Linked DNA regions of Homo sapiens: region 1 is linked to region 2. Evidence: fine-mapped expression QTL. Tissue or cell type: nasal epithelium. Region 2 holds a variant in brackets; the other region holds the start of a gene. All regions are shown on one strand. Distances are from middle to middle.

Evidence for each region. PIP is the estimated chance that this variant, and not a neighbour inherited with it, causes the effect.
Region 1: it holds the start of TRABD2B, and the variant in region 2 is fine-mapped to the expression of TRABD2B in nasal epithelium (TOPMed, PIP above 0.99).

Annotation. Positions count from the first base shown.
Region 1 is chr1:47,993,654-48,000,135 of GRCh38, reverse strand. TRABD2B (TraB domain containing 2B) reads left to right here and starts at 2,751. Exons shown (of 7, transcript NM_001194986.2): 1 at 2,751-3,448; 2 at 5,539-6,102. The coding sequence starts at 3,347. RefSeq lists an enhancer at 2,210-2,259.
Region 2 is chr1:48,070,145-48,078,592 of GRCh38, reverse strand. All of the region lies in intron 4 of LINC02794 (long intergenic non-protein coding RNA 2794), which reads right to left. Among named protein-coding and RNA genes, the nearest start is that of LINC02794, 25 kb to the right of the region's middle. The variant TA/A (reference allele first, on the strand shown) is at 4,401.

The DNA of each region.
Region 1 (6,482 bases), 77 kb after region 2:
CAGTGCTTCATTTTGTTTTATGGCCAAATAATATTCCATCATATGACTATAACATGTTTTTTAAATGTATATATTTAGCATATGATATGATATTTTTATATATCACATTTTGTTAATTTATTCATAAGTTGATGAACACTTGGGTTGTTTCCACCTTTTGGCTATAATAAATAATGCTGCTATCAGGCTTTACGTAGAAGTTTTTGTGTCGATGAATGTCCTCAGTTCTCTTGGGTATATATCTAGGAACAGAAAAATCTATTTGTTCTTGCTTCTCTTTAAGAATATCAGTAACAATACTGGTAAAGATCTTAAGACATTATTGCACACATTGACGCACAGAAAGTGAGGGGGACAGGAAACTGGCTGGGGAAAGAGAGGCACAGAAAAGCTAACTGTCCTGCCTTGGTCACAGTCACCACGTGTACCATGGAGGAGGAAGTCATAGCTGACACTCATGAAAATTAGCCAACAAAACTTTTATAATTTTAGGAAAAAAGATACCAGGGAAACTTTGTTTACAATACAGCAGGGGAAGGTTTTTTAAATCCACACACATATTTACACACATCATTGTTTTAAATTGATCAGGCTCTTTCTTATCCACTATCTGACTTGTGTCTTCTAATTCTCCAATGAGAACCATGACCCTCCCTCCAGTGGAATTCAGTTCTCACTTCCCCTCATCCTTACCAGCAGAGTGGTGACCTTGTAGGGAGTTTTGGAGCTCCGGAAAGTGGAGACTCTTTAAAGGACATCTCTTGTCAGAGCTGCAGGTCTCAGAGCTCTGTGTGTGGGAAGCATGGCGCTGTCCTGTGCTCTCATACATACCGTCTGGGCACTCTGGCCTGCTTGGTGTCTGTCACCAAGTGTGTGTGTAGCTAAGAGGCTGAGGTTGCTCCAGACACCCAGTAAGTTGAACCATATGAAATTGCCAACATGCATTCACTTGTAACTTACAAAAGTGGCAACTTCATGTGCACATGAGGGTAAACCTGCCAGTCTCTGGTGTCCCCTTCTTTCCTTCCCGTGTTCCTCCCAACCACCCAGATCCTGTGCTCTGGAAAACCTTTCTGGCCCTCCAGCCCTGCTTGGTCTTTCTCACTCAGCCTTCTAGTATGGTCATTTTCTAGCTGCTCAATCTGGTACCTGCAGGCATGAGTGGGAGAAGTGGGGAGAACACTGGGCTGGGAGTCAGGAGACCGAGGCTTGGGCTCTGGCTCCCTCCTCACTGACTATCTGCCCACTGGTCTCCCTGCCTCCAACTTGCCCCCTCCAATTCATGCCCCCGATGAGCACAGATCTACTCTAGCCACCTTAAACTTCAAATCTTGCAGTGACTTCCTATGACCTGATACCTAGAACGGACAGACTCCCCAGCTTGGCCAGAAGACACAACTTCAGCTCCTGCCACTTGCTTTTTGCCGCAGCCATGGGTAACTGCTTGCAGTCCCCTGCAGGTGTGCTCTCACACTGCTGCGCCTTGGCACCTGCTCTTCCTCCGCTTGGAAGGCATGTGCACCTCCTTCTCTAAGCTACCTCTGACTTATTTTTCAAGACCATCTCCCAGGCGTCTTCCCTGGGCCTCTGAGCTGTGTTAGGAGCTCTTCCTCTCTGCTCCCATTTCCTTGTGCTTCTGTCTCTCCTGGCCCTCATCATCTGTATTTTAATGGCGTCTTTGCATATCTGTCTCTGTCTGTCTCCTTCTCTAGGCTGTGGGCTCCTGACAGTATGACCTAATTCATCTGTCAATCTTTGTTGTCAGGATAGGAAGAGACGACAAACTCTCCTTTAACAGAACCAAGCAGGGGTGCCTGTGCCTCCCTTTCTTCATTTGCTGGAAACGGCTCAGAAGCTTAGATCTTGTGCTCTGGCCTTCTCTAAGTCTCATTTGCCTCTTGAGGAAGGGTAGGTTGGTTTAAGGGGTCTTTCAAGTCTTGTGGTCTAAGAAACTGGGATATCAATTCTCACTCTTCCAGAGACAGACACAGGGATCCTGCGTGGGTCCAAGGACATAGATAAGAGGGGATTACTTAAATGGAAGATTCCAAGGAATTTTGAGGATTTCTTTTCTTTTCTTTTACATTTGGTGTTTGCAGAGCATCTACCAAGCGCATCCCAGAGCTACGCGTGACATAAGGTTGCACACAGCAGCTTTCTGAATTTTGTGTGATTGCTGCCTCCCCAGTCCAACTCCTGTCCCTCTCGCTGTTCGCTCCTGCCAGGATCTGCGGGACGGATGCGTTGGGCGAGGCTGGTCCCCAAATCTGTCGCTGCCACCAGTCCGCGTCCGCCGCCGAGCCGGCGGAGGTTGGCCGAGCGGGTCCTTAGCCCGGGCGCCCTCTGGCGGCCGCACGGGGAAGCTGCGGCCCGGTCGCGCCTGGCGAAGGGAAGGAGGAGGGATGGGGGAGGAGGAGGCGCGGGCAGGGGAGGGGAGGAAAAAGTTGCGCTGGGAAGTTTGGAAAGTTGGGAAGTGGCTGCTGCGGGCTTCGCCTCCCTCCGCGCGTGTGAGGGAGCGAACGAGGGAGCGAGAGAGGAGCGAGCGAGCGCCTGCCATGCCCATCAGACCCCGCCTCGCCGCGCCCGGGCGCGGAGCTAGCCCTGACTCCCTGCCGCCCGGCCCGTCCCGGCCCGGCCCGGCGCGGCCCCGGCCCCTCGCCCCCCCGCCCCCCGCGCCAGGTCCTCCCCTCCCCCGCCCCAGCGGCCCCAGCCCCCAGCCCGGCCCGGCTCCGCGCCGCTCTCCCGCCCTCCTCTCTCCCTCCCTCCCGGCCGCGGAGCAGCATGGCGGAGCCCGGGCAGCGGCCGCGCGGCCGCCCGCCGCCCCTCTGAGCCGGGCTCGGGGGCAGCCGGTCGCCCCAGAGCCGCCCCCCACCCCTGCCGCGCCTTCCGCCGCACTTGTCCCACTGCGCGCCTCCTGGAGCGCCGCGCACCCCTGGGACCCTTGCGTGCCCCGGGTGCCCAGCATAACCCCGGGACCCTTGCGCACCCCGGGTTCTCGGTTCTGCCCCAGGAACCCCGCGCGCCCCTGGACCGCGACGCAGCTCCGGGACCCCGCGCGCCCCCGGACCCCAACACGCCCTCAGCACCCGGGGGCTCGGCCAGCGAGGTTGAGCGCCCGGGGGAGGGGCCCAGCCCTAGAGGGTCTCCCTCTTCCAACAGACGGAGCCCGGCCCCAGAGAAACCCCCAGGTCCGACAGGGACAGTCAGCCACGCCCCAGAGGGCGCCCAGCATCCTGCGGCTGGAGCCCCGTGCTCCAGAGGAAACTCCGTGCCCAACTGGGGGCTCCCCGCCCCGCTGAGGGGCGCCGCCCAGGAGGGTCCCCCGCGCCCCGCGGGCCCTGGCAGGATGCACGCCGCCCTGGCGGGGCCGCTGCTCGCCGCCCTCCTCGCCACCGCTCGCGCCCGCCCGCAGCCCCCGGACGGAGGACAGTGCCGGCCGCCCGGATCGGTGAGCGAGCGCCTGCCCGGCCACTCTCCCGCCTGCCTGGGTATTCTAGTCCCGTGGGACCATGGTTTGGGTCCTGCTTCCGCACCCACCTTAGCCCGCCCGCTCCACCTCCACCCCCCGGGCGCAGCCTCGGGCGCCCTTCCTTCGCTCCTGCCTGTCCCGGCTCCAGCTCCCAGCCAGGAGCGAGAAGGGGCGCTCCCTCTCCGGTTCCTTCTCCACACGCTGCCGCTCTGGGGCTCTCCTCTTGACTTGTGGTCCTGCTTGGACGCCTCCTCTCTCTCTGCCCCTTTTTGTCTCTCCTTTCTCATATTTTTTCTGTCTTTACCCTTCTGGTCTCTCTGCCCGCTTCTGACTGTGTTTTTCTACCGTTCCTTGCCCTTCTCTTGACTTCCATCGAACCCTTTTGCTCTCCCATTCACACACTCTGCCCCCTCCCAGGCTTCCCTCTCTCTCCCTGCCCTCCCACTCTGACCTAAGACAAACTTTCTCCCTGTTCCTCGTTCTCACCTCCATCTCTGCGGCCCAGGCTCCCACCACCTACTCTCCCAAGCGTCCATATTTCGTGAAAAGAGGGAAGATTTCAGAGGAGAGGAAAAGGCAATGCCAGGACATACTGGCCTAATATTTCTTGGGGTCGAGTAATTACTGGTTCTCCTAATATTCCTTCCAAAACAAAGAACCTCTTTATTTCCTTCAGTATCTTTCCCTCTAAGTGTAAATTAATGCATTGACAGTAACCCTGAATTGGAGGCCAGGAGACCATAGGGTCTGGCTGCTGTAGGTGTGCTGCCTGTTAGCCCGGAATTCGCTGACCTTGGGCAAGGTGCACCTCCAGCAGCCTGCCTTGTGCACAAACAGGGAGCTCGTTGGCTGACTGGGCTCTCAGTCTATCGCCAACATGCTGGGATTAACAGTTTGGGGTTGTTAGTAAAGTAAGGTACTGTTCTCCCACAACCCACCCATCCCAACACATACTTTTCATTTGTGCCAGAATCAGGCAGAAAAGTGTTATGAGTTGGTCTAAAGCTTGCAAGTGGTCAGTGGGCACTCCAGGGATTTTTCTGGTTGGAAAATGGCTTTGCCCTTTATGCCTAGCCCTGACTTGGATCTGTAGAAAGGACCCCTGTCTGCATGCCTCTCTTCAGCTCCTACATACACACACACGCGCACACACACACACACACACGCACACACACTCCCCTAAGTCGGAGCTTAGGTCATAGAAAATGACAAACAACTGGGGTTGGAAATCAGGTATACATTTTTAGGGGAGGAGCCTGGAAAGTACCCAGAATATGTACATTTCTTGGGACTAATTGTAATGGAATCCTTTCCTCCCAAACCAGATTCTGAAACTTGACTTGGCCTTGCAAGATTTTAAAGCACTTTCTCATCTATGGTCTCAGCTGGTCGAGCAAAGTAGCTGACACCCCAGACCTGCCCTCCAAAAAGAAAAGTGTATTCACCGTGATGAATGTGAAGTAGCTGTTTAAATAGGTGTGCTATTTTTAATAGGTGTTCTGCTTTCAAAGTGCTCTTGGCTTATATCTTCTAATGGTTGGATTTAAAAGTTATATGACTTCCTCCCTTCTTGCCAGAGCAGGACTCTTGGTCCTCCTTTCCCCACCCTCCGCATGAAACACCACCGGTGAAGGTTTGACTTGGCCAAGCATGAATATTCTCAGGTGGTGTGGCAGTCCTTGGCACTCACAGGGAACGCTAATCATGAGAGTTTCCCTTCATTGCTGACTTCCTCTGTACCTGGCACTGCTCTGAGGGCTTAATATACATATATTGTATCTTTTAATCCTCCCAACAACCCGAGGTAGTTGCTTTCACCCCCATTTTACAGATGAGGAAACTGAGCCTGTGGAAGTGAAATGATTCACTCAAGATCATACATCTAAGACAGGGCAAAGCTAGGTTTTCAATGTGGGTCTTTCAGGCTCCAAAGACCTGGCTCTTTACCACGGCCTGTGTATGGTCTCTGCCTCCCATCCCCACCTCCCTCTGCAACGTGCCTCTGGGCTACCCTGACTCTACTCTGTTGCCTTCGGCCTCACTGCCTTGCCTCTTCTCTACTCCTGCAGCAGAGGGACTTGAACTCCTTCCTGTGGACGATTCGGCGTGATCCTCCGGCCTACCTGTTTGGCACTATTCACGTCCCCTACACCCGCGTCTGGGACTTCATCCCGGACAACTCCAAGGCAGCCTTCCAGGCTAGCACCCGTGTCTACTTTGAGCTGGACCTTACAGACCCCTACACCATCTCGGCCCTGGCCAGCTGCCAGCTGCTGCCGCACGGGGAAAACCTGCAGGACGTGCTGCCCCACGAGCTTTACTGGCGCTTGAAGCGCCACCTGGACTACGTGAAGTTGATGATGCCCTCCTGGATGACGCCCGCTCAGCGGGGCAAGGGGCTCTATGCTGACTACCTATTCAATGCCATCGCGGGCAACTGGGAGCGCAAGAGGCCCGTCTGGGTGATGCTCATGGTAAACTCGCTCACAGAGAGGGACGTGCGCTTCCGTGGTGTGCCCGTGCTCGACCTCTACCTGGCCCAGCAGGCTGAGAAGATGAAGAAGACCACAGGGGCTGTGGAGCAGGTGGAGGAGCAGTGCCATCCCCTCAACAACGGGCTCAACTTCTCCCAGGTAGGCATGCAGTGCCCCAGCCCGGAGCTGACAGCCCTGGGTACCTGGGTCCTCTTCTCTGATTGTCTTTCTTCTCCGAGGGGGAGGGGGAGGCAGCCAGAGTCAGGTCCTTTTTCTGGAAGGAGAGGTTCTGCTGGGCAGCGAGGCAGCACCTGGCTGCTCTGGTGGTATCAGTTGAGAGTGGCGTATACTGGAATTTGGGGTAAGAGTCTGCGTGTTTGCTTCTATTTCAGCAGTATTACATGTTGGGGATGTACACTCCTCACCTGCTGTGCTTGCCTGGGCAGAAAGAATTTCCCTCAGAGCATCAGAGTGATCAAAAACAAAAAGAGGGGGCTTCCGGTTTGTGTCAGGCCTTCCTGAGGCCCTGGAGGCTGTAT
Region 2 (8,448 bases):
TGAAGATAAGAGGAATTGATGTGTACTGCACACCTCCCATGGCAGGTGGTATGCTAGACACAGTGGCCTGGGTCATCCCAGTTGATCCTCACAATCACCTTAAGAGTTATTGTCATGCCCATTAAAGACTAAAATGAGGCTAAGAGACATTCGGTAGCTTAGTCAATGTCACCCAGCTAGGTGTGATGGAGATGAGTCCAATAGCACACCTGGTGTCCTTTTCTCATGAGCACACTCTCTGTTCTCTCTGGATTCTGCATTCTGAGGTCTGGGCACACCAGGAGAGCAAATCTCAGAGCCCCACTTCTCAGGAAATACCCCAAGGCACTTTCTCTGGCCCTTGCTGGAACATCTACGCTTCAGACCACCATAGCTCACTCCCTCTGTCCCAACGTCTCAGCAGGGAGAGCTGTGAGATTTGTAGTTGGATTCTGCCCTCCTGGCCCATATCCCTATAAAATAGCAAGCAGAGAAAAGAGGGCGGAACACAATTTAAAAAAATAAACACTGACGCAGATAAGAAATGACTGGGGAGTCTTGGGGATTTATGCCTCATGAAGTGAGATGGCAAAGGAGGCCAGACAGGGAGCAGACAGCCCTGACGCCTCTGCCTCATGGATAATTTATCCCAGAAAGTAGAAGCCTCTGTTTGCAACTCACACAGGCCAGAGTGGTTTTCTGGGTCTTCCTAGCCCACTGTCTGAGGAGACCCAGGCTGAGTCAGAAGTTTTGTTTTCCCAGACTAAACCCACATGTGTGATACTTTTTTATGTCTTTCTACTTCGATGATTTGTTGGAGGTTCATCTTACACTCCCAGTGAGGCTGACAGGACGGAGACCCTTATCCCTGTTGGTCAGGTGAGAAAGTTGAAGCTAACAGACCCTTACCCAGGCATGCCCAGGGAATTGGGAGTATGAGCCATGGTTGGTTGACATTACAGCTCCCATAGGTACGCATTTCCCTCCTTCTCATTCTCCTTCCCCAACTCTAACCCACCCTTAAATTAACTCTGTTTAGCTAATGAATTAATTCAACTACCCTTTATGGAGTAATAATATGTACTAAGACTGCTGCAGACACAGAGATGAACAAGATAAAGGCAGATGTTACAAACAAATGAACACTTTTTAAATACATGTTGTTGGTGATTATAAAGATTATGTTAATTGAGGGTCTCTCTCCAACATAATAATCAGCAGAACTGAAAAGCAGAAGAAATTAACTAAAAACCGTAGGGATAAAATGAAAGAGGTAATCAATGCTTGGGTCAAGCACAAGAAAGACTTTATTTGCTGGGTTCTTCAAAAGCAATTCAATGGGCATTGGGAAGGTTCTTGTCCTGGATGATGTCCCAGCAAATGAGTTCATGGATAGGAACATGCTTCAAGATTAATAAGGAGCTGACAGTCACACTCGATTGTGATGTGGATGCTTAACTTGGCTGTGTGGCAGGCCCTCAAGCATTTTTATATCCACCAGCTGCTATAGAGGTAAAGCTCAATCTTCATGTAGGATGAAAAGAATTCAGGTTTTGATCTGATTAACTTGGTTTTTAATCCCCACTAGCTGTATGCTTAGAGCTAGTTGCTTAGCCTCTCCCAATCTGTTTTCTCAACCATGAAATACAGGTAGCAATATCTACCTCAGAGTTTTGCCTTGGAAAAAAAACATAAACTACATTAGTCCACATTTCATGGGAGGCCCCAAGATAATGGACACCACCTCTGCAAGTACAGTGTAGGACCAACCTGTAAGAACTGCAAAAGATTGTATTAAAAACTACTTTTGAGGTTCCTTGCTGATCCTTACTCAACTCTGGCATATAAAAGAGGTGGGAGAGGCCAAGAACAAAGTGGGGGATTAGATAGGGTTTTTCTGGAAAGAGCTGTAAGTACATCGTGTGTCTTTGTCCACTCCCTCCATTAACTCAAGCCCGGGGAAAGTGACTTTAATGGGATAGTTGGAGAACATGATGTTTTCCCTATATTTGGGGGATACTGTAAACTAGAATCTGATTCCCACTGCTAAATGTAAAAGGTTAGATGCCGGCTGACCAGCTGCCCAACAGAAGAATAAAGGGAGGTTGCTGCACTGGGGACAATGTAAATTCTCAGTTTATCAAGGTAGAGAATGCAGATGTGTTTTCTTGAACTAGATCTGGAACACACGACAGAGAGATGGTCTAAGTCTTCCTAAACCCTGTCAGAGGACCATCTAGTGGGATGAAGGACCTCAGCATAAAGAGGCAGGTGGTGCTGGAAGATGCCTAGGGGCTGGGGAAGGAATCTGAAGGAGCCAGCTAGAATCAAAATGCATTTACCCACATCAGGGATCACCTGCATGAGTTGGGGGTGGGGATTTTCCAAAGAACCCACAAATATACCAAATGAAAGAAGAAGTAAGGTTAATGCCTGCCAAGCTCAGAGAGACCCTGTATCTTCAATTCTATACTTGTCCAGTAAAAATTCTCCTGTTCCTCTTCCTTCTTTTTCTCTTCCCATTCCTGACAATAGAGATATATATATATATATATATATATATAAATCCACAATGGTTAGCAAGACATAGACAGAGAAGTAGAAAGAAGAAACAGCCCCTTTCTCACTGCAGGAGATTGAGCCTCTTTCTCACTGCAGGCCAGCAGCAGTTCCAGGTCCAAGCAAGTAGTGAGGGGAAAAAAAATCTTGCTTTTAAAGGAAGTTTGAAGTTTATTACTGCTATTATTGTTAATAGGTTAACAGTAGTGCTATGGTTTAAATGTGTTCCCTGAAAAGCATGTGTTGGAAACTTAATCCCCAATGCAACAGTGTTGGGAGGTGGGGCTTAATGAGAGGTAATTAGGCCATGAGGGCTCCACCCTCATGAATGGATTAATGCCAATTATAAAAGGGCGTGAGGCTGGGAGTTCAATCTCTTGCCCTCTCTTTGCCTTTCCACCATGGGACGATGCAGCAGGAGGGCCCTCGCCAGATGCCAGCTCCTTGATCTTGGACTTCCTATCCTCCAGAACCATAAGAAATAAATTTCTCTTCCTTCTAAATTACCCGGTCTCAGTTATTCTGCTATAGCAGCACAAAATGGACTAAGATGAGTAATAGTAGTATCCTAGACAAGTTAATTACCGAGCAGAAACAATATTTTGTGATTTAAGACAGATGGGGAAATTTGTATTACCTAAGAGAAAACAGAAGAGTCATAAAGCAAGTCCCAGATTTCATCAAAAAGAACAAAAGAGACTCAGAAGTGCAGAATAACTGATGAAAGTTGTTTCTTGATTATTCCCCCATGAGTCTGGCTTATTCAATGTAACAGTTACATGAGATAACATTGTCATCCCTTCCTTGAACACAGTTGACCTGAGTATATCTGAGTTTGCATCTACCATGTCTCTCGACTTGGTTGACCAGCAGTGGACAAAGTCAAACAGCTAGGTTGTCTTCGAGCAGATACTGTGTATCTGGCCTTTTCTCTAACCCAAGGGTAGAGATAGGAGGAGACCCAGTCTTAATCCTTGGCCAACATGCAGGTCACAGGGTTGGAAAGCCCCTTAGAGATGTATGGATGGGGTGGCAGAGACCAGAGAGGGGTTAGTTTCCCAAATCCATTGTACAGCCAGGCATGGAACCTGGTTCTCCTCTGTCCCTCTTCCCTAACTATCCTATTACTCCCTCCACACAACCTCCACCTAGAAACCTAAGACAGGGTAGAATCAAGTGCTAGGTTGACCAATCTGATGGTATCTACCATTTATTGAGCATCTACTATGTGCTAGGATATAAGCTAGCCCTAATTCTAATAATAACCTTCCAAGGTAGTGGTATCAGTAGCTTTTTCATAGATGAGGAAATTGAAGCCCATGAGGTTAAACAACTTGTCCATGGTCATATAGCCATTAAGGGGTAAAGCTGGGATTCAAACCAGTCAGCCTGACTCCAAAGCCAGTGATCTTGTCACACTGCCTTACCATCTCTCCTGAGGGCTGCTGGAACCAGGAAAGAGTGGTGCCAGCAAGGCTACAGGTGCGTCCACAAAGCCCCAAAGGGAGCCCCCAGGCTTCCCACAGTGCCATCTTTGTGGAAAAGAAATGGTGCAGACTGGCCCACATGCTCGCCCAAAGCCAAAATGACCAGAATAGGCTTGCACATTACCAATTCCTTCCAAGCAACTAAAAGTGATGCAAATTTTTGAAATTATAAAGCTGAATAACTTTTAATTAGTTGGCAAATTACATGGCCAGAGGGGCCTTACTCTGTTCTCTGCAGTAGATATTAACTTTATTAACTTTGTTCCTTTTGCAAGTTAAGTTGGTTCTTTGTGAAGGTGGGTGCGTGCGAGTGTGGTAAGTTCTCATTTTATTTGGCAGGAATTTTGGCTGAGATTTACAAGGAAAAGATACTTT[TA/A]GATTTTTCTTCTGATGGTGAACTTGGCCTCCCTTACTCCCTACTGAAACTCTACTCTTTGGAGGCGGAAACGGGGGATAAAAAAAGGATAAAGAAAGACAGAAATTAGGCGGCGAAAACAACTGAAGAATAAATAATCCTCTTAAACCAGTCACTGGGAGAGGCAACGGAAAGAGCCCGAGACGGGGGAAGGGGGGGCGGGGAGCAGGCGGGGTGGGTTCTGGTTGGGTGATTCACTTACTAGCTGGCTTTCTGACCTTGGACAAATGACCTAATCTCTACAGGTCTCTGTTACCCTGTCTGTAACATGGAGAGGATAACCCCAGCTCAAAGGCCTCCCTCAGGTCTGCTGAGAGGATCAAGTGGGATATCATCTGATAAAGTGATTTGACTTTTACAAAGGACTGTCCAAATAGAAGGTTGTGGTGTTATCTCTGACATCTGAAGCGAGGTCCTTGGATGTTCCTGGAGTCAAACCTGACAACAAGGAAACTTTCAGCATGACCGAGAAAAGGGTCTCCCTTAGCTCAGCTCCTGGGAGGGCCCCTGAAGGAGATATAAAATGTGAGTCTGTGGGTGGGAGTGATTGTGCTGGGCATATTTAATGTATGTCAGCATTCACTCACACTTTTGAGTGTGCACATCTTATTTCTTGTATATACAAAACTGATGTGTGTGAATGCCTGTGTCAATATGGTGGGCAGAGAGGGTCATTTATTCGTTCATTCCAGGAATGAGTTTTGAGGATTTACTCTGCTCTCTAGATGCTGGAGATTCAGTGGAGAACAAGACAGACTAGCATTTGCATGTACGTAAGAGTGTTTATAAGAAAACATGAGTTCTTAAGTGTATGGAGTATTAAGTGCATATGTGAGAATATCTGTGTGAAAACACATGTCCTTATGTATTAGGAAGTGTGTACTTGTGTAAGAGTTTGCATGTGAGTGTTTGAGAATCCGTGTATTTGTTCCTATGTGTGGTGAGAGAAAAAAAGAAAGAAACAATTCTTGGTCACCCTAGAGGGCATCAAATTTTGTTAAAATACCTTAGAGCTGAAAGACCCTGTCTTAGTCCATTTGTGCTGCTATAACAAAGTATCAGAGAACAGAAATTTATTTCTTATAGTTCTGAAGTTTGGGGAGTCCCAGATCAAAACACTGCCATTGGTCTCTGGTAAAGGTTGCTGTCTGCCTCTGAGATGATGCCTTGTTGCTGCGTCTTCCAGAGTGGAGGAACACTGCGTCCTCACATGGTGGAAGGCAGAAGGTGAGATAGTGCTCCCTTCAACCTGAGCTCTTTCATAAGGGGCCAAATCCCATTCATGAGAATAGAACCCTCATGACTTAATCACCTCCCACAGGCCACACCTCTTAGTACTGTTGCATTGGGGATTCTGTTTCAACATGGATTTTGGAGGAAGCACAAACATTCAAACTATAGGAGACTCTGAGCTTTCATCTAGTTCAATCCTTAACATTCCAGATAAGGAACCAGAGAAAGGAAACAGTGTGTATAAGGTGACCAGATGGCCAAACAAGGGCCAGAATATACACCTACGGCTTTTGAGCCCAGGCATCTTTTCCTAATGAGGATGTGCGTAAATGTGAATGTAAACTGTGCATCTGCAAGGAAGAATCTGGGAGAGCAAATGGAAAGGTTGGCCTGGCTCGAATATGGAGAACCCTGAATGCCATGCCAGGAGGATTTGAGCAGGAGGGCAGAGTGGTCAGGTTTCTGCCTTCTAGGTGTCCTTCTACTGTGGAGAAAATCAGCTGGAGCAAGAGACACTGCAGGGGAGAGATTGTGAGAGGGCAGGTGGAGCCGTCCTGGTGAGAGGGGATGACACCTGAATTAGGGAGAGGGGAATAAAGGATGAGGTGGGGCCGGGCACGGTGGCTCACACCTGTAATCCCAGCACTTTGGGAGGCCGAGGCAGGTGGATCACGAGGTCAGGAGATCGAGACCATCCTGGCTAACATGGTGAAACCCCGTCCCTACAAAAAAAAAAAAAAAAAAAAATTAGCCAGGCATGGTGGCGGGTGCCTGTAGTCCCAGCTACTCAGGAGGCTGAGGCAGGAGAATGGTGTGAACCCAGGAGGCGGAGCTTGCAGTGGGCCGAGATCGCGCCACTGCACTCCAGCCTGGGTGACAGAGTGAGAATACGTCTCAAAAAAAATATAAAAAGGATGAGGTGGGCAGGGGAATGCTTCTAGCCTAGAATCAGAGGCTTTTATATCCGTTAGGATGTGGAAAGTGAGCTCACACATTCCAATCGTTTACACGATAAGGCAGTTTCCCCTAAACCTGAGAACCAGGAGGAGCCTGGGAGACTTTACAAGCATCTCATTAAAACTTCTCAATAGCCTGGTGAGGAGGCCATTATTTTCCCCATGTTACTGAAGACAACTGTGGCTCAGAGTGAGAGGCAGCTGCCCAAAGACACATAGTCTGATTTTGGTGGATCTAAAATAAGAGCCCAGGTCTTATGTGCTTAACAAAATATTGCATAAGTCAGCAATCACTTATTAAGCATCTACTTTGTGCCAGGAACTGTACTTGGCACTTTAGGCACATTACTTCATGTAAGCCTTCTGATGACCCTTTCTCCATTTTTCCAGTGAAGAAAATGAGATTCAGGGGTATGACCAAGAGTACACAGTTGGTTCAACCTGTACCTGAACCCAAGCCATCTGATTCCAATGCCCATCGTTTTCAACGATTCTGCATTTCCTTTCAAAATCGGAACAAATGTGCATGCAGTAGTTTAGGAAGAAGTGAATTTAGGAATTCCCATCCCTAGAGAATGTACAGGCTTAGATTATGGGCTGATTCAAAACAGTTTTATCAAATGCCTGGGTGATAAGTCCATGCTGCAGATTGAAGAGTCCTATTCCTAATCAACAAAAACCACATACAGGAAGTCAGATTGGGCCTCCTAAATCCCATCGCCTGCCTTTCTCAGGGGTAGAGCAACTGTGGTCTCTACTGGGTCCCAAGAGCAACCATATGGGGTTGGAGGCTGGAAATCAAGACATATGGGACACAGGGTCCCAATAATTTCATTGTGAGGCCCAGGCAAGACCTTGTGGGTATGGGTCCTTCCAGCTCCCGCCATTTGGGATTCTATGTCCTCATCCACTCGCAGACACAACGTGCTTGTCCTTCAGTGACAGAAGGCTTGGTCTTTGCATCAATGCCAGCCTGGTTCCCTCACCCTGAGCAAGTATAGGAACTGAAAGCCTTCACGTCGCACACTTAGACCCGCTTCCTCAGATCCTGAGCCCACCCTGTCTAATGCAGAGAGGATAATGAGCCCCTCCTACTGGAGGCTGAGATCTAGAATTTGTCTGATTTTCCTAAGGCCTGTCTCAGGTTCAACTGCACTGAGACTCTCTAGCCCTGCCACTCTTTCAGATGTTTCCTGCTATCTACTCTATTCCCGTTTCCTCAAATCGCTGACTGACGTCCTATTATAAACCAGACAGGACGTGGAGAACCTGCCTTCCAAGACTGCCATGCATGTCCCTGAGATACCCACTGCCAACCCTAGTCAGAGGCCCTGGATGAGGCATCAGAATGGATGGGGCCTAAATACCACACCCCCTCCTGAACTTTGATCTCCAAAACTGGTCACTCTGATAGCCTGAGGCTATGCCAGCTCCAATACTACCTTTGTCTTCCCCCACCAACTTCTCTGCCAAGACCCCAACATGCCTTTGGTCAAACTTACCCATTTTACCTCAATTGAGTTGATTTCTTCTGACTTTTTTGTTCCGGAGTCTCTAACCTCACCCCACCCTAATCACTGAAACTAATTCCTGGCCCCACTTGAAAGGCCTTTCAGACTGAGTGAAAGTAATCTTCTACCCCAAGCACGCTGACACATCAAGTCCCCAAGGGTACTTTCTTCCTGACCAGAAATGCCATCAGAGAGTCCAGGAAGGGCTTGGCATACTGCCCTTATCAAGGTCTCATCAACATTCATTCCAAGAAAACACAGTTGTCAGAAGACACACCCAAGAAAGTGGCCAGGAAGTAACCAGTCAT